Linked DNA regions of Homo sapiens. The protein of the gene in region 5 purifies or fractionates together with the protein of the main gene of each other region. This does not show direct contact. Each region holds a gene or a part of one and is shown on either strand. Other genes may lie near its edges.

The links.
Region 1: the proteins of SPTAN1 (region 5) and NUCKS1 fractionate together in Homo sapiens (co-fractionation; one large-scale study listed by BioGRID). This does not show direct contact.
Region 2: the proteins of SPTAN1 (region 5) and TSPAN3 fractionate together in Homo sapiens (co-fractionation; one large-scale study listed by BioGRID). This does not show direct contact.
Region 3: the proteins of SPTAN1 (region 5) and CTPS2 fractionate together in Homo sapiens (co-fractionation; one large-scale study listed by BioGRID). This does not show direct contact.
Region 4: the proteins of SPTAN1 (region 5) and TAGLN purify together in Homo sapiens (co-immunoprecipitation; one large-scale study listed by IntAct). This does not show direct contact.
Region 6: the proteins of SPTAN1 (region 5) and LMO7 fractionate together in Homo sapiens (co-fractionation; one large-scale study listed by BioGRID). This does not show direct contact.
Region 7: the proteins of SPTAN1 (region 5) and PSMB7 fractionate together in Homo sapiens (co-fractionation; one large-scale study listed by BioGRID). This does not show direct contact.

Annotation. Positions count from the first base shown.
Region 1 is NC_000001.11:205,715,753-205,719,182, forward strand, and holds part of NUCKS1 (nuclear ubiquitous casein and cyclin-dependent kinase substrate 1), read right to left. Parts: intron 2,728-3,430; coding exon 2,528-2,727; 3' UTR 1-2,527.
Region 2 is NC_000015.10:77,047,110-77,050,609, forward strand, and holds part of TSPAN3 (tetraspanin-3), read right to left. Parts: intron 1-3,500. UniProt on the Homo sapiens protein: Regulates the proliferation and migration of oligodendrocytes, a process essential for normal myelination and repair.
Region 3 is NC_000023.11:16,699,170-16,702,669, forward strand, and holds part of CTPS2 (CTP synthase 2), read right to left. Parts: intron 1-3,500. UniProt on the Homo sapiens protein: Catalyzes the ATP-dependent amination of UTP to CTP with either L-glutamine or ammonia as the source of nitrogen. Constitutes the rate-limiting enzyme in the synthesis of cytosine nucleotides.
Region 4 is NC_000011.10:117,202,370-117,205,166, reverse strand, and holds part of TAGLN (transgelin), read right to left. Parts: intron 2,166-2,797; 5' UTR 2,154-2,165; coding exon 1,974-2,153; intron 1,861-1,973; coding exon 1,683-1,860; intron 1,386-1,682; coding exon 1,283-1,385; intron 953-1,282; coding exon 808-952; 3' UTR 1-807. UniProt on the Homo sapiens protein: Actin cross-linking/gelling protein. Involved in calcium interactions and contractile properties of the cell that may contribute to replicative senescence.
Region 5 is NC_000009.12:128,580,087-128,583,586, reverse strand, and holds part of SPTAN1 (spectrin alpha chain, non-erythrocytic 1), read right to left. Parts: intron 2,666-3,500; coding exon 2,528-2,665; intron 1,806-2,527; coding exon 1,695-1,805; intron 1,109-1,694; coding exon 1,031-1,108; intron 894-1,030; coding exon 738-893; intron 511-737; coding exon 306-510; intron 1-305. UniProt on the Homo sapiens protein: Fodrin, which seems to be involved in secretion, interacts with calmodulin in a calcium-dependent manner and is thus candidate for the calcium-dependent movement of the cytoskeleton at the membrane.
Region 6 is NC_000013.11:75,856,330-75,860,366, reverse strand, and holds the end of LMO7 (LIM domain only protein 7), read right to left. Parts: intron 3,862-4,037; coding exon 3,759-3,861; intron 2,447-3,758; coding exon 2,424-2,446; coding exon of another isoform or gene 2,354-2,423; 3' UTR 501-2,353; downstream 1-500.
Region 7 is NC_000009.12:124,356,443-124,359,942, forward strand, and holds part of PSMB7 (proteasome subunit beta type-7 precursor), read right to left. Parts: intron 2,745-3,500; exon of another isoform or gene 474-2,744; coding exon 322-473; exon of another isoform or gene 1-321. UniProt on the Homo sapiens protein: Component of the 20S core proteasome complex involved in the proteolytic degradation of most intracellular proteins. This complex plays numerous essential roles within the cell by associating with different regulatory particles.

The DNA.
Region 1 (3,430 bases), on a different chromosome or scaffold from region 5:
CTATTGCCATTTCACCATAGGCACACTAGAGAAAAAGAGGAAGGTTAGTCAAGGATGGTGCCAATGGCCAGTCAGTATCGGCTTACAGCTTGTAATGCGTCCTGACATCACTATCAAGCCTGACTATTGAGCACCTGTATCCAGTTGAGTCACCACCACTGTCCTCCTATTTGCATGCATGATTTGAGGGGAAGACTAGAGTGTTTTAAATCATCAATAAAAAGTGGAGAAAACAAAGGTTATTCAGAGCCTGTCTCACTTGGGGACACAGATCCTTCTGTCCAGTCTATCAGAAATATAGAATACATTTTTCAATCTAATGAATTAATTTTAAAAGGGACCCTAAACAAGAAGCCCAATCAAATGCACACAAGTAATCTAGAAGACATGATTACCTCTAAAATATGTGCATATATCACAGAGATGTTAGTGCAGATTAATATATTAAAGAGACTGTTAAACAACTGAGGCTGAAGTTTTAAAAGAGCCCTCCCCCCAAATCTTCACGAAACATAACCTAAGAAAAGCCCAAATGTTACTAGGAATGTAAGACTTAAAATTATAAACTCCTAAAAAATAGAAGTGCATGGTGGAAACACTGATAGGTCTTTTACTATATGAACACAAACTTCTTTGTTAAAAATGGATACCTGAACAAACCCATTTAGGCAAATAGATTAATCTTTAACACCCTCATTACAAAGTTCACACCTCTGAATTTAACCGTCATGAAAGAGAATGATCCAACTGCTATTTATGTTCAAGTCCTGTATTTTTGGCCATGTAACTGAAAACTCCTTATTCATTCTTTAACACACAGTGCAATAGTGAAATGACTCTGCCACTGTGTGTTTTTTAAAAAAAGATCAGAGTAAGCATGTTCCTAGTAAACCACAAAGTAGGATATTGAGGAAGCAAATCTAGATTAAAAGGCAGGAAAAAAAGGCAGAAGTTTAAATTTCACTAATTTTTCAATTTATTAGCATACCAGGACCCTTTAAACCTTGTTCCCATTAGCGCCTGGTATTAGATGTGAAGGATCAAACCTACGGATCTATCTCCTGACTGCTTTTATAAGGCGTGTAAAAGTCGGTTTTCAACTGCACACAGGCCTCCTAAAATGCCTTGTTTCTCTAGTCCCTCCTGCTTTAAGCAGCATGAGCAGTAAAGCAGGGGTTGGACCAAATAAAAAGACAAGAGCTAACTGAATTGTATGGGAGCAGCATTTAACATATTCCTAGTCAAGGACAGGATGGGAAGTAAGTGAAGAATAGGGCCAGGAAAATAGTGTCCTATAGCAGAGGTGGTTGGCACTCGGGGTAGGGTGTGCAGTGGTGCTCTACGAAGCAGCAGGATCACAGGGATGTACTTCTTATCACATTTCTATGAAGAAATGGGAAGATCGGGATATGAAAAAGAAAATGTTCTATCCCCAAATAAAAGCAGAGCATGGTTAATGGGACCTGAATGCACATTTATAGCATAAAAGAATGTCAATTCTATTTCATAAAGGAAAAATCTCAACTCTTTGTGACTGAGTTTCACATTAACTGGAACTTTATTTGCTTAAAACCTAAACATTGTCAGTTTGAAAAGAAATCCACTGTGACCTGTAGACTGATCTTGTTGATTAAATTCTAGGGTTTTTTTTTTTTTGGATTCTTGGTAAAATTTTATCCAAAAAACAGGATACATATATATTTAGAGAAGGAAATATGAAATCAAGAGTTTTGGCAGCCCCTGCTTTTTTTTTTTTTTTAGCTCCCTAAAGACTGTAGCAGGATAAAAGGATCACTGGCTCCGAGTCTCTTTGAGATAACAAGTGATGAAATAAAAAAGAAAGCCCATACCCTCAAATAAGGTCAGGTAACCCCATTGCCCACCCTCCCTACAAGGTAAAAAATGAGTACTTTTAGTAACAGTTCAGAATTCATCTTTATCTCCTACCTGCCTCATCGGTGGAAGTTTAAAGTCATGATTTTTTTTAGACATTGATACTTGTGTCTATAGACAAATAAACTCATATTAGATGACAATTGATTTTTTAAAAGTCCAGGTAGAGAAAGGAGCAATCATTTTGAACTAAAATCTTTCTATGTTTTTTGATTACTATTCAACTTGCTATTTTTTAGCAAAAAGCGAAGTTTCAATAGTGTTCATCTCAAATCTTATTGCTTTACAACCGTGGTACACCTTTCATTAAAAATAAAAAGATGAAGCAGTCAATCCAGTGATTAATTTGACATGGCTTTCATTGGGAAAGGGGAGGGCTGGCAAAGAGACCAATAGACAAAAAGGTAACTTAAACACTTACACATACAATGGTTTGCTTTAAAAAAAAAAAAAAAAAAAGAGAGAGAGAGAGAAATGTTACTTTCAACAAATGGAAAAAAGCACTGAAAGCCCATGAGTCAAGCCATAGCCAAAACCATGTTCTATCTTAAGTAGGTTCTTTTTTTTCCTCCCTCTTTTTTCTTTTTTTTTCTTTTTTTTTTTAATAAAATCTCTCCCCAGACCATCATCACTTTTAATCCTCCCCAGAAGGGGCTTCATCTTCAGACCCTTCATCCCCAGATTTCTCGGGTGGGGGGCTTGTAGATGTTTTCTTTTCTGGCGGGCTTTCCGGTTCCTCATCTTCTTCTTTGGGAGAAGGAGTCTTTTCCTTTGATGCCTTTGAAGCTGTGGGGCGACCCACTTTCCCTTTGCCTTTCACTGGACTTGGCGTCACTGAAAATAGAAAAATAATTTGGGGAAGGGAAGAGAAAAAAATGTCTTTAATAAAAGTCAGCTACAAAATACAACAATCTGTAAGAATAAAATCTATAAAGACAATATGCAACTTACTAAAAACCAAGGTGGGCACAAGGGAGCACATATATCCCTAGGTAAATCTATCTCAGTTTCTAAACTGGTCATAAGTTACTACACTATGCTACAGTATTTCCCATCAGTTTTTACCAACACTCTATGATGTTAGCAGTAATACCTGTAAAGAAGAAGCACCATGCTATAGAATATGCACAACATCCTTAATTGCTTGGTAAACTAACAGTTGTTTATGATAAAAGTTGTTTATAAAAAGCAGGTCAAAAAGACGGAAGGAAAAGAATTAATCTGATCAGAAACTAAAGCCATCAAATAACATTTGATAGTTCCATCATTCCTAACAGTAGGAAGTGATAAACAGAAGTTTAACAATGACTAGTTCTACCTAACAGAATAAAACCACCTACACAAAAAGCAAATTGATTTCTGATTTAGTTAACAAACTAGCTCCAACGAGGAGAAACCATTAGGGCTCAGAAAAAAATCAACTCATGTCATCAAGTGTGGTTTTATTCTGATAGCACAGAGGATGGGGTAGAGTTCAGAACGTGGAACTTAAACGTATTACTCTAGGTTTGTGCATTTTCACAATTAAGTCTTTGCT
Region 2 (3,500 bases), on a different chromosome or scaffold from region 5:
AAGCTTCAGCTTCCCTCCCAGGAACTCTTCGTAAAGCCAGCAGGGAATCAAGTCTCTCTTATTTGGCATCCCCACTACTAGTCTAGCGAGTGCTGTCCGAAAGAACTTTCTGCAGCGATGGAGACATACCACATATGCACTGTCATGTGGCCTCATGTGACTACTGAGCACCTGAAATATAGTTACTGCAACTGAGTTGCACTTTTAATTTTATTTAAATTAATTTAAATGTAGACACATGTGGCTAGTGGCTACCATTCTGGACAGCAAAGGCCTGGGGAGTAGAATGAGCAAGAATGTGTGTGTTTAATAGTGGTCTTTTCAGGTCTTTTGGTTTTTGGAAAACGAAATTCAGTATGTGAATAGCCCTATGGTAGAAAACAAATTCTGATGCCAAAAAAAATGTAGTTGGAAGGTTTTTTGTTTCCTTCACATTCACTATTTTTGAAATCCACGGTTCTGTGGTATTACATACATATTACTTTTGAAAGGTCACTCTTCCGTCATCATTTTATTTCAATAAGTCCTAAACCTTCTGTGGTAGCATATTGGAATAGTAATAAAGTCATGCCATGTTATTTTGGATAAGCAAAAGGATTAAGCTGGATTAAAGAGAAAATGATTCTAGAATTTTTGACCTACCTTCTCCCAAAATATAATTTTTTTGTGAGATAATTTGCTGTTCTAACTTCTCATTGATGAGGAAAAGCCTCAGTTATTTGATTTTAAAAGACAGGGTCCTCTGTACATTTGGGGGTCAATCTAATTTCCGCAAAATGTACCCAATCCATAAACAGACTCTCAAAGTTTGAAGTGGAAGATTAACCACTACTAAGACACACATACACATAAGGATGTCCTCAATCTGAATTCTCCATGGTATAAAGTCACCCACTCCAATTTCTACCCTCACATTAACCTATATTCTGCCCATTCGGGATATATATTTCCTGCTCAAATCCATCAGTTTCACTATTTCACCACTTGCACCATTTGCACCATTTCACCATTTGCAAAGCACCTTAAACACACTTAAGAGGTGAATATTATTTAAAGTTTACTAAACAATTTAAGTCAATTCTAGACCGATGAAGTACCTAATTCCTAGAGAAATACATTTCTGTTCTCTGTACATCAAAACATTGTTAGAACAGCTATAAACTCAAATGCAATTATGTTCTCAGGCAATGTTAAATTGAGCAATAAAAATGCTAAGCTCAGAAATGACTGGTTTGCTAAGGGAAAAAAAATCTCTCTTCCCACCCCCACCTCCCCACACTCCTTTCAATTGGTTAACTTCTATTAGAGAAGCCAGCATTCTCAAAATGAGGTCTGAAATAAGTATTTCTTTCCCAATTTGTTTATTTCAATGAAATCAACTTGTATTGATTTTAAAACAAATAAACTTGATAAAATTCTACTCATGCTTGGGAATCAGTCTGCTTAAGAATATTAAGCTCTACATAATAATTTCTTATCCTCACCATTAACTATTACAGGCTCATTTCCAAAGGCCTGCTATACTGAAATTCCATTGATTTTTGAAACATTCCAACAACATACTTGGAAACATTACACAAATATTTTATCTCCAACATTATTTCTTGCAATGAAATACTCTCTTGCAATATTCAAGGCATGAGAATTAAACTTCACTTAGCCCAAATATAACACCCAGCAACTGCAAAAATTGAAAAAAATGACTAGTGGTGATTAAAAAAACTGACTGGCAAAGTAAAATGTTCTATGATATACCATGTTGCTGGTGGTATGGGGAAATAGGCATTCTTATACAAAAATAAGAACTTTTGCACATTAGAAACACTCTTTTCTGAGAAAAAATTGGAAATACCTATCAAAATTCATTCATACATTCTGATACTGTAATTTCATAGTTACAAATTTTTGCTATAAACAGCCCATCAATATTGATTAAAGTATGCCTATAAAATGGAATACTATGCAGACATGAAATTAAAAAGGCAGATCTATATCCAAAATACACTAATTTGTTTTTAAGAAGGTACAAAAGGTTGCAAACTATATGAATTCATTTATATAACATTTTGCAATGTTGGCCAGGGTGTGAGGGGAAGGAGGAGGAAGTTTCTCATTTTAACGAATAACTGGTAATTGAGGAGGAGGAGGAAAGAGCAGTCTCCACCGGCTTCACATGCGGCACAGAGACCAGAAAAAAAGCAACATGGCCTTGGGAAACAGTTCTTTATGAAATCTGCTCTTGATCGTTCTATCTTGAGGATATGCCAACTTCATGAGACCCCAAAGTAAAGACTTAGAACATTTTCCCCGTATTGCCTTTGTAGAGAGACAGCCTTACTCACAGCAGATACTCAGGAGCTTGACAAATCAAAATCTAGATTTTTGTCAATTATTATGACCAGATTCTTTAAATATAAAATTCATAATTGATCATGAGTTAAGAGAGTGGCTACTCTCAAAGAAGTGAAATATCCTGCTAATTAATAAGGGGTACATCAAAATTTTTAAAACCTCATTCTTTTATATTCAAAAGTCCTGTTATTATAATTAATTGGTATTTTTCAGGTTTTTCTTTCTTGGTCACTTTGGTCCTACCCAAATCTAGATTATTTAATGGACTAGAGCAAGAGTCACCAAACATTTTCTTAAAGGGCCATATCATAAATATTTTAGGCTTTCCAAACCAAGACAAAAATCAATCAATATTGTAACTACTCAACTCTGCCATCTTACCTCTGTATTTTATCCAGCTAAAGTGTCAATTAACTGTCAGGTTTCCTGACAAAATTTAGGAATTTAATCTTCTGCAAATCTTATACTTGTAATTGGAGGCAGAGTACAAACAAAGGCAGGGGTCTCTAGAGTTGACACTCTGTGTGATGGTCATGCCACACTATCCTTGCTCACCCAAAATTTTGTGGCTAAACAAAGAGGGCCAAGACTGGAGACTCTCCAACCATCCTCTCCAGCTCTAAATGTCTATATTAGGATCAGTGTATAAGCACAAAAGCTCACTGATCTTTCAGTTATTTCTGCCTTTGTTCAGGTTTTCCACACCCAGGGCACCAATCTATCAGATTTTGAATACCAGAAGCTTAGAATGTTTACAGGTACTCTTAAAAACAATTAGGGAAAATTATTAATTCAGATAAATTTTCTCCCCTTAAAACCCAAGTTTTTAAAATTTTCAAAACCACTAGGTTTTGAGTCTGTGAAAGCTCTGAATCCCTAAACTTAAGCAGCCTTGCTGAAGTGAAAAAATCAAGCTTTATCAGCTTTTACTTAAGTCAGGGTGACTTAAGTATAAAACACATATGGCAGTCATATTTAAATTAAGAGACTAGTTAAAATATTTATTAGCCCCTATTGAAAAATATTTAATAAAGAAATGTCTGGCAGGCTAAGCCGCTTAACTAGATGAGGGACATAGCTAAAGTGATTATTTTTATCAGTCTTCTATATACATGTTGCATATTTCATGACCACAAGTACCATACAGT
Region 3 (3,500 bases), on a different chromosome or scaffold from region 5:
AAAAGCTGGTAAAAGATGTATTTGTAAGCCATATTCTATCACCATCTCCTTTTTGGTGGAGATATTAACAATTCAATTATATCCAAGAAAATGCATCAGAAAATTCTATTTATAATATTCTATTGTGGTTTTTTTTTAATCTACTGAAATTCTGTCTTCAAGATTTAGCTTTTCCAAACTCAACATATGCCACATAAAAAAGACATGAAAACAGAAATTTTAAAAACAAACAGCATTTTACTTCAAAGCATCAGTATCCTGGACTCTGGAACTGCGATAAGAAACTTTTACTTGATTCTCATCTTGATTAAAGCCATAATTAGACAGTAGATGACAAAGCAAGGCCACAGCTAACCCATAAGGCAACTTGGTGAAAGTGAGGGAAAAAGCCTGTGTGTGCCATAAGCTACGTGCACAATGCACTGTCATAAAAGACAGGTGCAGACTTCGTCACACGAGGAGCACCAACTTTAACTACTAGACACGTCTGTAGATCTCTATTGTCACTTCAGGGCATGGACTGAGAGTCGTATGTTTCTAAAGCCACCTTGTAAGAATTGAACCTTTCCCCTATTAAGGGAACTATCATTTATTCCTACTGTTAGATGTCCACAGGAAAAAAGGTTGATTAACTTACAAATTTAATCAGAAGCCTTTTATATCCTAATTTATTTATCCATTCTAAGGTACATAACTGTGGTCTAGAAAATTAATTTTAAGGAAAAAAGCAAATTGATATCACAATACTTTTTTTTTCAATTTTTTTTTTCAATGTTTTTTTTTGAGACAGAGTTTCGCTGTCAACCAGGCTGGAGTGCAGTGGCGTGATCTCAGCTCACTGCAACCTCCGCCTCCTGGATCCAAGCAATTCTCATGTCTCAGCTTCCCAAGTAGCTGGGATTACAGACATGTACTACCACGCCTGGCTAATCTTTGTATTACCATTATTATTATTATTATTATTTTGAGACAGGGTCTCACTCTATCGCCAGGCTGGAGTGCAGTGGTGCGATCTCGGCTCACTGCAACCTCTGACTCCCTGGTTCAAGCAATTCTCCTGCCTCAGCCTCCTGAGTAGCTGGGATTACAGGTGTGCACCACCACACCCAGCTAATTTTTTTGTATTTTTAGTACAGACAGGTTTTTACCATGTTGGCCAGGATGGTCTCCATCTCCTGACCTCGTGATCCACCTGCTTCAGCCTCCCAAAATGCTGCGATTACAGGCGTGAGCCACCGTGCCCGGCCTATTATTTTTTTAAATAGAGACAGAGTTTCGCCATGTTTGCCAGGCTGGGTAGGAGAATCGCTTGAACCTGGGAGGCGGAGGTTGCAGTGAGCCGAGGTCACACCACTGCACTCCAGCCTGGGCGACAGAGTGAGACTCTGTCTCAAAAAAAGAAAAAAAAAATCATTAAAAAAAAATCCAAAGAAAATTTGGTGTAACACATGGCATTAGTCAATGGTGCCACACAACAAACAACCCCAAAATCTCTGCAACTTACAAAACATTTATTTATTTCTCCCTCATGTTACATGGGGGCTATGAGTCACTTGTGAGTCTATTCTTTGTGTCTTCTCATTCCAGGACCCAGACTGAACGAGAAATCTCTGAAAACCAGGCTGTTCTCATGGTAGAGGGCAGAAGCACAAGACAGACTGAGCCAAACCACACAGATGCATTTGACATTTTCTGCTTCAACAAGGCATATGTTAATATTCCCTAACATCCCATAGGACAAAATAAATCACATGGCCAAATAGAGTGACCAACCTGCTTGGTTTGCCCAGGACTAAGAGGGCTCCCAGGACACAGGACTTTCTGTTTTAAAATCAGGAACATTCCAAACAAACCAGGACAAGTTAACTATCCTACGTGGCCAAACTCCAAGGTCAAAGGGCAGGGAAATGTACTCCACAGAGGGATGGTGGGTAACATTTTGAAGCAAAAATACAATCTACCACAGACTTGAATAAGTCATTCACAAACAAAATCAAAATCAAAGAACTCTAAATTAAAACAATAAGATACCCTCTTTTTGTTTGTTTTATTCTCAGGTTAGTAAAGTTTAAAACACGATATTCAAGGCCTGGTGCAGTGGCTCATGCCTGTTGCAGTGGCTCATGCCTGTAATACCACCACTTTGGGAGGCCGAGGTAGGAGGATTGCTTGAGCCCAGGAGGTCGAGACCAGCCTAAGTAACATGGCGAAATCCCAGCTCTATAAAAAAATTACATAAATTAGCCAGGTGTGGTGGTGCACACCTGTAATCCCAGCTACCCAGGGGACTGAAGCAGGAGGATCACTTGAGCACAGGAGGTGGAGGTTGCATTGAGCCGAGATCTTGGCCACTGCACTCCAGCCTGGGCGATAGAGTGAGACCCTGTCTCAAAAAACAAAAACAGGAAGACAGGATAGCAACAAGGGACACAAACATTTTTTTTTTTTTTGAGATGGAGTCTCACTCTGTCACCCAGGCTGGAGTGCAGTGGCGCAATCTCGGCTCACTGCAAGTTCGCCTCCTGGGTTCACGCCATTCTCCCACCTTAGCCTCCCGAGTAGCTGGGACTACAGGCGCTCGCCACCGCGCCCGGCTAATTTTTGTATTTTTAGTAGAGACGGGGTTTCACCGTGTTAGCCAGGACGGTCTCGATCTCCTGACCTCGTGATCCGCCCGCCTCAGCCTCCCAAAGTGCTAGGATTACAGGCGTGAGCCACCACGCCCGGCAGGACATGAACATTTCTGTTTCTTGATCAGGGGCTGGTTACACAGTGTGTTCATTTAATGAAAATTCATCCAACTGTACACTTATGATTTATGCACTTTTTTGCTTGTATATAAAAAGGTTTTTTTGGGGGTTGGTTTTTTGTTGTTTTTGTTTGTTTGTTTGTTTGTTTGTTTTGAGACAGAGTCTCGCTCTGTCGCCCAGGCTGGAGTGCAATGGCTCGATCTTGGCTCACTGCAACCTCCGCCTGCCAGGTTCAAGTGATTCTCCTGTCTCAGCCTCCTGAGTAGATGGGACTACAGACACGTGCCACCACGCCCAGCTAATGTTTTGTATTTTTAGTAGAGACAGGGTTTCACTGTGTTAGCCAGGATGGTCTCGATCTTCTGACCTCGTGATCCACCTGCCTCGGCCTCCCAAAGTGCTGGGATTACAGGCATGAGCCACCGCACTGGGCCTTATAAAAAGTTTTTTAAAAATAGCATGTAAGGGCTAATGCCATTTTAAAAATAAATCAAATATACTCATACATCAAAATGTCACCATTAATAATAGTTACTCCAGGCAGTGGGAAATGTTAAGAGAAACACACTACCTTTATGTTAAAAATAAAACAGAATCTGTAGTGCAAAAGATACAATGTTTCCAAAAGGGATGATTAATTTGGAATGTCATCAGAGGTATGAACAATGTATCAATGACCATGAGAAAATTCACATATTCATAGCATACGATCTAGTCACTCTAAATCTGGAACTACATCCTAAAGAAATT
Region 4 (2,797 bases), on a different chromosome or scaffold from region 5:
TTTTAATGCTTAAGATTTGTTTTTCTCTTTTCACAGCAACATTTTCTTGAATTTTTTTCTGCACAGCTTTTCCAAAATAAAAACCTTCCAAACAATTCTGCCACTCGCAATCTCTCCTTTCCTCTGTCTCCCCAAAGCCACTGCATGCTGCTGAGTGGCTCCTTTTTCCCTTCGGTCCCCAAGATTCACTCTCCTGTTCTATGGCCTGTTTCCTCTGAAAGAATCTGACTGTCCTGGAATCTTGGCACATGAAGGGTCCTTCAGAGGACGGCAGCCAGGAACACATACAAGCCCGAGATGCCTGCCTGTCCCCTGCGCAGATCTGAAACCATAACAAAAGTGACCAGGGCAAATCAAACTCTGCCAGCCAGGCCTGAGAAAAGATTGATTTTTTTTTTTTTTTTTTGAGTTCCAACCCCAAAAATATTCCAGGACAAGATAGGGGGCAGGCTGGGCTGGTTCTTCTTCAATGGGCTTTTGCCGCCAAGGAGGACAGTGGACTTGGCCCACATCCAGGCTACCCCCAGCCCGCTTCTCCCCTGCTTAGCCCAGGGAGGAGACAGTAGAGGTGATGGGGGCAGCCGGGAGGGAGGGGCCAAGGCAGTGATGCTTTCGGGTAAGAAGTTGGGCTGAGGCTGGGGGCACAGGGAGGAGCTGCCCAGGTGCAGTTACCATTGCTCAGTGACAGAGCCTCAAAGCTTGGCCAGGGCTGAAGGTACCACACGGGTGTGGGTGAGGCAGGCTAAGCGGGATGGCTGCAGCCAAGGAGCTGGGGGAGGGCCGGGCTCAGGGCTAGCCCTCTCCGCTCTAACTGATGATCTGCCGAGGTCGTCCGTAGCCTGTCATGCCGGCCTGGGAGGCCCCTCTGTTGCTGCCCATCTGAAGGCCAATGACATGCTTTCCCTCCTGCAGCTGGCTCTCTGTGAATTCCCTCTTATGCTCCTGCGCTTTCCTAGAAGAGGAGGAACCAGGATAAAGACTTGGTAGAACTGTGTGTTTTCCACCCGTTTTCTGATCCCTCTGTTACGTCCTAGCCCAATCCCATTGCCTTCCTGTTGCACTTTTTTTCCCTAATCTAGCTTGCCTCATAGGCTAGGGAGACTGAGCGCAGGAGGGTGGAAAGGGAGGGGTCAAGGAGTATTAAGGACCCATTATTCCCCATCCCAGACCCTCACTTTATCCTTTCTTGGCTATCTGCTTCCCCTAATCCTTCCCGCAAGCTCCTTAGAACAAGCCACCTCCCACCCCATGCGGAGACCCAAGCTCCCTGGGGGCCACATACTTCATAAACCAGTTGGGATCTCCACGGTAGTGCCCATCATTCTTGGTCACTGCCAAGCTGCCCAAAGCCATCAGGGTCCTCTGCACTGCTGCCATGTCTTTGCCTGTGAGAAGACAGGAGAGAGGAGATGAACATCAAGAACGTATAAACAAGACTCCAAGCCAGGGCCTGCCCCCGTCTCTCACAAAAAAATGGCCAAACCAGGGCCAAGAGTTGTCCCCAATTCAAGGGAGGCCTCTCAGTGGGCCCTGTGAGCGTGGCGTGTTATTCTCGGCATATCCCATCCCTGCTGTGTGCGGGCAAGCACACCCCTAGTTGTGGCATATTCTGGTCATTCCCTCTCCCTGTCCCAGCACCCTGTCCTCCTGCCCACCTCCTCCCCCAGCCTCTTCCTCTCTACCTTCAAAGAGGTCAACAGTCTGGAACATGTCAGTCTTGATGACCCCATAGTCCTCAGCCGCCTTCAGGAACTGAGCCACCTGCTCCATCTGCTTGAAGACCATGGAGGGTGGGTTCTCGGGCACCTTCACCGGCTTGGAGCCATCAGGGTACAGGCTGTTCACCAGCTTGCTCAGAATCTACCAGGCATAGGGCATAGGACGCAGCTTAGCAGTCAGCTCAGGGATTGGCCCAGGACTCACAGGGTGGCACACCCCAGCCCCCCAGCGCCCTAGCCCAGGGTGCCACTCACCACGCCATTCTTCAGCCAGACCTGGAAGCCCAAGCGCCCACGGTCTGGGCGGCCCACATCAGGGCCACACTGCACTATGATCCACTCCACCAGCCGCTCCTCCAGCTCCTCGTCATACTTCTTCTCGATTTTGGACTGCACTTCGCGGCTCATGCCATAGGAAGGACCCTTGTTGGCCATGTCTGGGGAAAGCTAAAGCAGGCCAGGGTGGAGGAGGGAGGGGCAGAGGGTCAGGGAGCAGCTCTGCTTTCACCCGTGCCAGGCAGCCTTCTAGCTCTGTGCAGGATACCCGGCCATCCTAGACACTTGTCACAGCACTGCCCATCCAGGCCAGGCTCAGCCCCTACTCCAGACACCTCTCTGAACTTGAACACCAGGAAAGAGGATACCAGGTCTTTGGAGGTCTAGAGCAGGGGTCAGTAAACTGTTTTTGTAAAGGATAAGACAGAACATATTTTAGGCTTTGCAGGACACATGGTCTCTGCTGTTGCAGTGTGAAAGCAGCCATAGACAATATGTAACAAATGAACATGGCTTTGTTCCAATAAAACTTTACTTACAAAAGCAGACAGCAGGCTGGATTTGGCCCATGAGCTGTAGTTTGACAACCCTTGGTCTAGAACATTCTTTGCCAAGACCAGCTACAGAGCCACTGGAGAGACCTTCCAGAAGCCACATTGCCCCCACAGAATACAGCCAGCTGGTGCCTTTGTCCAGCTGCGGGTGTGAGGGTTTACTGCCTCTGCCTCAAGCAACCATTACCTCCCACTCTCACCCAGAAGCAGGCCCTGGCCTGGAAGCCCGAACTCCAGAACTCCAGCTCT
Region 5 (3,500 bases):
GAGATATAAGGACACTGGAGAATTAGTAAATGCCCTTGGCTCTCAGCTGAACTTTGATTTTCAGCAATGAGGCCCAATTCAGTTCCTTCTCACTCAGACTCCCTCACCAACCAGTATGCTCGACCACATTTACCAAATTATTATCAAGAACTTAAGCCAAGTAATTCCTACACAGGAAATTATCCCTAACGCCAAAGTCATCCACCTCACCTTTCTTGGGGGGTATATGTCCCTAAAATACTTAATAGAAAGGGGTATTTAGTTCCCCAAACATGCATGTCACAATTCAATGGAACATCTCTTACCTTTCAGTTCAGTGGCCTCTAGCAGTTTCTTCCACAAACTGATCACCTCATTCATACGAGCTGCCACTTCATCCTTGGCATAGTGGTTGACATCAATCAGCTTTTGGCCAGCTTTCTCCAAGGCATCAATTCGGCTCTGGTTTGCTGAGAGCTCAGCCTCAAAAGCCTGATGCTTCTGTACTTTTCCTTGTAGGTTGGATGGATCCTGTGAATAAAAGAAGGGGGTTCTTTCTATCTTGAACCTGAGAACGTCAAGTTCCCTTGCACTACCTTCATACTTATCTTTATGGAGGAATGTATAAAACAGTTGGCTTACATTAAGTAGTGGGGTTTCTGGAATCCCTTATTTCGTCCTTTAGCTACAATTTATTTGTGAGAGCTGTGTTTAGCTTACTAATCGAGTGCTACATGGCAACACTAACAGTACATTACTTTATAAGCTTCATCTGTGGCAGTTTTCATCTTCTCATTGACCCAACTCTTGAGCTCATCAGAATCACGGAAAAACTGCTGCAGATGGAAAGAATCGGCTAGCTGGGCCCGGCGACGCATGGCTCTCTCGTGAAGGGCATTGCGGCGGCTCAACAGCTGAAAGACAAGGATCCCCTGTGAGTCTCTAGTGTTCACTCCCAAAGGGATATCCAGTTGAAGAGACTTAACTGGAACATCTTAGAAGAGACATTCATGTACCAAAAAGGAGGAGCATGAAGAACCTACAAACTTACAGCATCTCGGCGAGTGGCCACATCTTCCATTGCATAGTGGTTGTTCTGAATTAGCTTGGTTGCAAATTCATCTAATGCCTAGGAAGGAAGATAAGAGTTCTTCATTGGTAAGCACACTAGTCCCAAGCTTGGCCTCTGGAGAAAAGTAACTGCTGAACAGATCATAAAACACACCAAACTTTAACATAGGTCAAGGTTTTCACCCAAAGGTTGGTGATGACATTTTTTCTCATAACTTTTGAGATTTTGCTTGATGTCACCAGTCAGATATCATAAGACTGCACTACCTCCATTCAAGACTGGAGACATTAGTTGTGGCACGATCTCCTGGCAGGGGTCAAACACAGGTTAACAGCTTTCCAAATTCTTATTTCTAAGATGTATTTTCAATGGGAAGAGTACCTCTTAATATTAACCCTGACCTACTTTTAATGAAGGGTACAAACTTAAAGAAGTTTGGAGGTTTCCATTAAGTAAATCATTTTTCCATAAAGTTGTATTATGTCTTCAACGAGATAGCATGTCATCCTTGTGAAAGTTTAAGCACCCACAGGAGTACTCTGCATATGAATCTTTCATCAAATCTGTTTGGAATCCTTCCAGGGAAAAAGACTCTGGCTTACTATAAGGGTCATTTGAAAGCACTGACAAGAAGGGGTCTTACTGTAATCTTTTCCTCCTGGGCACTAAGGGATTTCTCAAAGTCTTCGTGCTTCTTAAGAAGCGCTTCCACACTATCCAAGGAATCTCCCAAGTCTTCATTCAACAGGAACGCCTTGCCAAAGGAAACAAAGTGTTCAGAATAATGTCCTATTCCTTTGATCTTCTAAGACTGTGAAGCAAAGGGTATTTTGGCCAAAATATAAAAAGAAGGAAAGAGATTTTATGGCTGCTAAACTTCTAAGATCTCTTCTAGGAAGTCTAAAGTCCTTTTGGATTTTCTTAAAATCAATCCAGCCATATCATGAAATCCTATTCCACATTCTATTGAAACTTCTCTTACATAGTTTTTGTTGCTTCTATTAGATTCAGATGTTACATAATGCTAAGGTTTGTTTTTTTTGTTTGTTTTTTTTTTTTTTGTGAGACAGGATCTCGGTCTGTTGCACAGGCTAGAGTGCGGTGGTACGATCATAGCTTGCTGCAGCCTTGAGCTCCTGGGCTCAAGGGATACTCCCATCTCAGCCTCCCAAAGTGCTGGGATTACAGCAGGGAGCCACTGCACCCAGCAATGCTAAGTTCTAAGAAAAAAATCTCTTTAATAAAACATTTTACATCACACTAATCTGAAAAGCTGGGGCCTTTTCTGAAGGCCTTGCAATCTCAGCAGGGAGAGATGCTGGCAGAGCTGAGAGAAGCTTGCTCAATTCCCCCTCTTCAATGGATTCAGAACTAACATGGTACTGATGTCCTAAAACAAAACAAGCACACTACCCGAGGAGGCAAAACACAGGCCCTTCTTCTCCCACCACTGGCAAGGCTTTGCTCACAGATTACCTCCTGCTTGCTCATCCAGTTGTCCACCTGCTCAGTGTCCCGGTAGAAGAGCTGCAGGTCCATGCACTGCTCGTACTGCTGCCTGCGCAGCTCCCACAGCTCCAGCAGCGCCGCTCTCTCCTCGGAAAGGACGGTCAGCTTGGGGGCATAGGAGACATGGTCAGGGAGATGAGGTCAGCCCCAATGCCTCCGAGGCAGACAGAACAGCTATCCTGGAATTCCTAATCCTAGTGCTAATCTTCAGGCCTTTTTTCCGATTTGCAAAAGGGGAAAAACAACATTCACTTGTATGTGCATGTTCAATATAAAAGGGATGGCCTGTTTTAATTAATCTAGAATTAATTTATTGCCAAATGATCACAAATGACTTTAGGTAAAAACAGTAAGTAAACTCCCAGGTAGAAGAAATAGGGCATCCATTTAAAAGTGAGGCAGTATAAATGGAGTTTAATGGAGTATAAATGGAGTAGGGACTCTCCACTAAGAAATGTCAACTGAGTGGGTGCTCCATAACATATGGAAAATAAATTCAGAAACTCCCTAGACTTTAGGCTCCGAAGCTACTAATGACAAGTCTTTGAAATGTCTTTACTCTATGTAATACTAAAAAACATATAAATCATATAAATCATTATTTATCTAATGTTCCTAGGCAATTTTATACTCGAAGATACTTCAAAACTTATATACATATGTGTATATATATACACATATAAAAAAAGTAAAATAAAATATGTATATATATACATATTTTATTTTTATTTATTTATTTTTTTTTAGAGACAGGGTCTCACTCTGTCACTCAAGCCAGAGTGCAGTGGTGCAAATCATAACTCATTATAACCTTGAACTCAAGTAGCTCGGACTATAGGAATGTGCCACCATGTCTGGCTAATTTATTAATTTTTTGTCCAGATGGGGGTCTCACTATGTTGTTCAGGATGGTCTCCCATTCCTGGCCTCAAGCAATCCT
Region 6 (4,037 bases), on a different chromosome or scaffold from region 5:
ATTTGTTCTTTGTTGCTCTCATCGCCACCTGCATGTTATTTTTTCATGTATTGTTTTATCACCTCCCTCAACCAGAAAAATAAGACCAATCAGAGCCAAGACTGTATTTCTTCACTGTTCTACCCATGGTGCCAAAAGCAGTGCCTGGAGCATAAAGTATGAATTAAAAAATTTGTTGAAGGGCTGGACTCTTCCCTTGTTCCTAGGTGAAGTAACAAATACCCAAGGGCTTATACAAATGTAGAGCCGGTATCCTAGAAGAAAATAGCTCTGAAAACTGTACTTATAATTTGTACTAACAGAAATGTTATCACTAAGTAAGATAATGTGAGAAATGGGGGAAAAAATCATAAGAAAACAAGAGCAGATGAAAAGACAAAAGGCTTAGATGAAAAGGAGCAATGGTCAGAAAGGATTTTGGATAAGGAAACGAAAATGATGGCAGAATTAAGGCATCCTCTGGGGACAGTGGAAAACAGAATTAACAAGGCAGAAATTGATAGTGGTTTCTTCATTCATTTATTCAACCACTGCATATTGAGGGCTGCCTCTGCATACACATCAGGCAGAGAACAAGGCAAAAGAACTGTATCTTCATAAACATGCAGTGAGATGAACAAGCCCACGTGCTGCTTATAGGAGTCGAAGCCAGCAGTGCCTTTCTGGAAACCACTTTGGCAATATATACTATGAGTGTCTTAAAATGCATAATCTCTGAGCAACTATTTCATGTCTATGAAAATAATATAAAGAAAGAGATGATCATAGAGTATCACAGAATTTACATATTTATATATAACATGCACATATTAAAATGTTTGATCTTAGAAACAAGTGAAAAATACACAGTAATGGAATTATCAACTAAATATTACCAAGGCCAAACAATGGAGCACTATGCAACCATGAAAAAAGATAAAAATAATTTTAAGAACATGGAAAAATTCACAATCTATACTTATAAATAATTATATGCAGAATGAATTCAAACACAGAGTTCTTGTCTTTGGAATTTGGGATTCAGAATTATATTCTTTATGCTTTGGGGCATTTGACAAGTTATCCTCAAGGAACACATTATTACTTTAATAATAATCAGAATAAGTACTAAATAAAATTTTTATCTCCCACATTAGCATTTCTTACATATTTTGAACCTATTCCAATACAGTTCTCAGTTCCTAGAATCCTCCATTCCACTTACATTATTATAAAAGATTCCAGTAAGTTTAAATTTTTGCTCAAAGCATGCTAAAGTTTTGTATCCTTGCATTCCCGCTCCAGATTTTTTAAACAAGAGACTACATTTTTTGCTTTATAGATATTCTAAGCTCACTGTTGTCTTCTCCTTTTATCATGGGGTTAGTAAAAGATTTTATTCAAATGATCCAACAATTCATCACTCTCACCATACAAATATATTGTATCCAAAAACATAACTTTATCAAAAATAAACTTCCTTATTAAAATGTTTCAGTAAACACATCCAGACTGTGGCATAGTTTCGAAGGTATACACCATGTCAAAATTTGTCAAAGTATACACTTTAAATATATGCAGTTTATTACATCAATTATACCTTAGTAAAGCTACTGGATAAAACATAACATCAAAAAAGGCCACATACTGAAATATGGCTAAAAGGCCTGAGGTCAGACACATACACCTAAGAAAAAGACGACCCACTCGTTAAATGCATCAGCAAGTTTATTTACAAATGCAATTGAACAGAAAGGCTCACCAGTTTCTGAAGAAGACTTCTAGTATACAAACCATGGTTATTTTTCATTAATGAAAATAAGCAGCTTTCTATTGGGAATTACTTAGCAACATTTCTGGTAAAGAAAATAGAGCTCCCTTCATCAAGCAAATAAATGGTACATTAACTGCATTTTTAAAAATCAGAATAATAGGTAGAAGGAAGGATACAGAAAGCACATTTGGGGATAGATTTTAATGAAATTTTCCATATGGTTCTGCATTAATTTAGAATACATTACAATAAACAGAGCAAATGCAATTATGTATTTATATTAACTATTTCAAATAATGTTTAAGAACCTTTTTTTAAAAAACAATAAAATACCCTCTTCAAAACACCACTAACTAGAAAGTCAAACTAGATCATTATCTGCCTCAAAAATATTCGTAGGTTCTTATTTTTTCCCTTGTGCTCTCAAGATGCTGAATTCAACAGGTAAATACTGCACTTTTCCCCACACACAATTACCTTATAAATAAACAACAAAAATACTGGTTCTACCAAGACTACAATGCTTCTATGTAATCTAAAGAGGCAAAAAAAGTTATTCTTTTTTTTAAAAAAAAAGCAAAAAAGACATACAACACATATTTATAGATCTACATGAGCAGCAACCACCTCTTCTTCTATCTGCAACAGTGCTTTCGTATGGAGGCTTACATCACATGGCGGTTGGCCGTCCAGCTGATCGGGCAAGGAGAAAAGAAAGAAAAGTGCTTAGATTCAGAAACGTGAATATTGCCATCTGGGATACATAGCAGTCATCACTCAGAAAGTGGCCCAATGAGGTAGAAAGAGTAACCTGTCACTCACTCTTAGGATAAAGCTAGGCAAGTCTCAGTGTCTCGTCTCTGGAATTCTTTATTTGTAAAAATGGAGTAAAAATGAACTGCTCACAATAGAAATAAATTACACTCAACTCTCTATTATTTGTTTTGGAGGAGAGAAAAGGCATGGGCAATTTTACAATGGTGATTCCAGAAATCATTTCTATTTGGCTTTGGAATTTGATGAGAGAGAGAAAAACACACACACATACACACACCCCCCACCAGTACATGCCCAGCCTTGACTTTCTCCAACCTCAGTGTCAGCATCCAGGAAAGGACTGGACAGCTGCAGCAGGAAGGCTCAGAACCCACCGACAGATAAAAGAGAGTTGACTGGGCTTAAACCATTTCCAAAGCACTCTTCACATAGGGGCCATATAAATACCTCAGAGTTCAAAAGCAAATGATTTTGCTGATACCACTTGTAACACCCTTTCACAATAAGGAAGAAACACATGTTACCAGCATCAAGGTTTAAAATATAAAACAGCAGTAATACTTGTCTTGCTGTAGCTATACACAACACACAACCTAGTTATGCTAGCCTACCTTTTATAACACACAAACACATGCTTAGATGCAAAGTAGCATTTGAAGTTTTTTGAAAAACTCATTTTTTCCAAAAATGACACTGAAACACCATAGTTAATACTTTCCTTTTAAAATTATATATTGACATATATTAACATAAAGCATAAACTGACTTATTTTGTATTACATGGAACAATATTTTTTAAAGTTGGTCATATTCTAAATCACATAATCAAAGCCCATTGTTAAATAATAGAAGTTGATGAGGGACCAATCTTTAGTCAAGAAACAAATCCTACATAGAAGATTCATTTAAGTGTTTTGGTTTGTTTGTATTCTTGAGTCATTAAAGGTCTCTGCGGACTCTGGGCAGATAACACAAGACACCATCCTGACTTTTGGACACTGTTCCTCTCCATTCCTTGGCCCCACAACCCACTCCTGTGTAGCTGGAACCCTGAGCAGTGACCCATTCACTATACACACTCTTTGAAGGGAACACACTACAATTCTTGAAACCTGGAATCCTATGGCAGTGAACTTGGAGGGGAGCTCGCTGCAGGTTCAGGGAAATGCATGGGAACCCGTGGCCTCCTTAAAAGGCAAGAAATTTTCTCTCTGATTTGCTCTCTTACATTTGAATCTGAGATAGCAGTCGTTGCAGTACAGTTGGTGGTTTCTGATCCTGACTTCAGCTCCTGAGGAAGAGCCTCCGAGGTCACACTCACAGGCAACACACTGGGGAACAAAAAAAAAAGAACATCTACAATCAGTCAGCTCAAGAAAGCTTGGGGCACTCCTGGGGGTGGGGGGGAAATGAGCAGAATGCTACTTCTAAGCTCTTAGATACATTTCAGCAAAGAAAAAAAAAGGCCGAAAGATGATTAGTAGATTCAAATCAAGACCGCCAGATA
Region 7 (3,500 bases), 4.2 Mb from region 5:
AGAAATCAGGGGATTCTTTAAGACACTTGAGAAAGGACAGCAGATGATCCAAACCTCTCCGGCCCCACCTCCCAGCCTAGGGCTCTTTCCTGGGCCACCCTCCACCTCTCCCATCAAATTAAATCACTTTCCTACACCTGACAGCAGCCCACTGTCATAAAGCAAGTAACAAGCCGAAGGTCTGTGTGGGAGGTTGATTTGGGAACACTGGATGTACTTAATGTGGAAAGAACCAGGAAAACTCCATCCAGATGCCATGGAGATACCAAGGGTGGCCACGACGCCAGGGGACCCAGGAAGAACTTCGTCTCCTTCACTCACCTGGTCCCCTTCTTGTTGGGCACTGTGTATGGGCGGAGAAAATCCAGCTTGTTCTTGCTGATGACGCAGAGGTCAATGTTGCTTCCGGAGCCCAGGTCGTTGAAGATGCCAGCTGCGATGGCTTCGCTCACCAGATTCTTGGCTTCCTCCTCCTGAGAAACAGAACGGCGGCAATAATGTCCCCGGCCAAACTAGGGCCTGCTCTGACATCCGCAATGTACGTCCACTAGCAGTGCGCAAGACCTCCCGCGAGACAGGTGTTGTTTTTAATGCCCATCTCACAGATGAGGAAAAGATCTCAAAGTACCTTGATTATTTACCCAAAGTTCCCGACCCAGGCCTTTAAAACTTTTTATGCATGCACCGCCTCTTGACCACATCAGACAATCACCACAAAACGATGGGCTGACAGTTACTAGAGGGTTAGTAACTTATCTTTAAAAGGGCCAGGTAGTAAATATTTTAGGCTTTGTGGCCAAAAGTCTCTACCACACCTACTCAACTCTGTCACGCTAGCACAAAACAGCCACACACAAATACATTAAAAAATGGGTATAACTGTGTTCCAATAAAACTCTATTAGCAACAGGCAGTGGGCCAGATCTGGCCCACTGACTGCAGTTTACTAACTATCCCCTGATCAAGAATGTCCAACAATAGCTGAAAGTTACTTGAGAAAGTCAGCACTGTAGGAGGAAGAAACTAACACCAAAACACAAGCCGGTAGTTCTGGGGAAATGCTGGCAGACCAAGGGCGGGACCTCTTGCCCAGAATAATCTCTCTCTCCTACTAAGGAACCTATAGGTTCACTGAAGTAATCCATTACTTTGAATCACTCTCTCCTTTGCCCCACCTTTAAACACAAATCCCCATCCCTAATAGTTACTGGTGAACAGATGGACTCATCCCTTTCTTATCCGAGAAGCCCCATCACATGCTATGTCCTATCACATGCTATACCAGAAGCTAGGGCTGCAGAGGTGGATGACGCCCCCAGATCCCTGCCCCCTAGGGGCTTAAGAGTCTAGCAGGGGCACCTGACCCAAGTAAGTACAATGCAGGGTAAGGCTGGCTAAAGAGCACGTGAAAAGGAGCTGGGAACACAGCTGGTCAGCAGAGCTTCAGGGAGGGCTGAAGGACAGGCTGCACACGAGGCACTCAGAAAACAGCAGTGAAACAGAAGGCAGGCAGCAACGGCAGTGGTACTGGACCTGGGGAACACCAAGTTCAAGCTCTATATACAACGAGGACAAAAATGAACCAGGCTCCCTGAAAGCAGGGAATCTAACCTGTGCTACGGCGCCTTCCCAGTCCACGAGGGCGTGAGAGTACATACACATGCAAGTGCACTCCAGCGCTCACCCAAGCAACACCCTTGGAGAAACACGGACTCCAGGCCCAAATCCAGCCTGAGACCCTCAAAGGGCAGATCCGCTAACCTCAAGTTTTCAGAAGATCTGAACCCACTGGGGGCTCCTGCTCCTCTGCCTGCCCCATGCCAGACTAGGATTCCAGTGACATAAGCGCCCTCTACAGACTCAGAAGGACAGAGAAGGTTCTGCTGGAAGTGGGCTCCTCAGCAAACCAGCAGATAGGGGTTCCTTTGATATTTATACCCCAGGTTTTTTCACTCTCACGTGACATCTATGTGGGGCCAATGAAGCCAATTCTTCTTTTGTACATATGCAGTCCTGTAAGAATGCATTCAAACGGGATCCGCTAATTAGGAATTTTCTCCTGGAATTCTCAACAGTCTATGGGGCCAGAAGCTTTCCACAAACCAGTGAAGGTGGCAGCAAAGAAAGCCTCTTAGACGAGGAGCTGGCAGCAGCTGCTATCTAGATAGACAGCAAAAACCAACCACTAATTCAGCAAACACAACCTCATACCTAACCGCTTCCCTTTAAATGGCCTTCGGTGTGTGCGCACATGGGCACGTGCGGGGAGAACCATACTTATTCCCCTGTTCCCGGCCTACCACCTCTGCTCCCCCTTCTCTTCTCTACCATTTAACTGTCTCCTCTGCTTTGTTTCTTATCACTGCTGCTGGTGTCTAGAGCCAGCCAGCAGTACCTGGCAGACATCGCGACCCTGCGGGCAGCGCTTAGGACTGCACATTTACATTTCCCAAATGATCTGGGTAGATGGGGACAGGTGAAGACTTGGGGAAACGGAAATATACGAATGACATGAGACATGCATATCTAGTGTCAATCCATTCGACTGGGCACAGGACAGCAGACTGCTGACAGTGCTATGTAAGATTATGAGTGATCCTCCCTCTATTTTGCAAACAGTCTGTAAGTAACTGATAAAACTTTAAAATATGCAAATTTTAAAATTATATAGTTTGATTTACTCATCAAATTATCATGTATGCTGTTATTTAAGTATGAATAAAGGCTTTTTTAAATTGGGAAAATACATCTTTTAAATTCCTTTCCTCCCCACCAATTCTAGGGAAGATCATTCCTTAAGGAAGAAAATCTCAAGTTTCTCACTTTTTTCCCCCCAGTCCCACTCCATGTCTCATATACACATGGCTGAAGATGTTAGGAGATGGAATGAAACTTAGATTTATGGAGCACCTATATGCTCACTAAAACAATCAATCAATCAACATCTACCAGCACTCTAACGTGCCAAGCCCTGAGTTGGGCACTTTGATGATCATCATGTTCACCCCTGCCCCCAACCATCTTTTGATGTTGGTATGGTCAGAAACTCTGGCTGACGGTCAATGACTTACACAAGGTCACACAGCAGGTAAACAAAAAATAGTAAAACAGGCCCATCAGGCCCCAGAGCCACAAGGCCGCAGCACCACACCAACTCGCAAGTGACCTTCCTTGGGCCGGGGGCTCCTCAGCTAGTCCCTGACTCAAGGCTGTGTCATTCACGCCCCACCACCAAAGAGCCTTAAGACCTGGGTAAATTTAAGAGGAGGAGGATGGTGTTTGCCGGTTTCTCTCTGGGCCAACCAGCAGCTCCTCTGATGGTCACTCCCATTGGGGGTTGGAGGGCAGTGTTTCCCAAAATACCCAAGACTACCACTTCAAGGGCCTTCTTCATTCTCAACCAAGTTAGGGCAACATCTCTACAATGCAACACCAGATCAATATTAAGATCTAAGGTCTTATTTAACATATCCCTCCCTTAACACCCCAAACCCTCATAA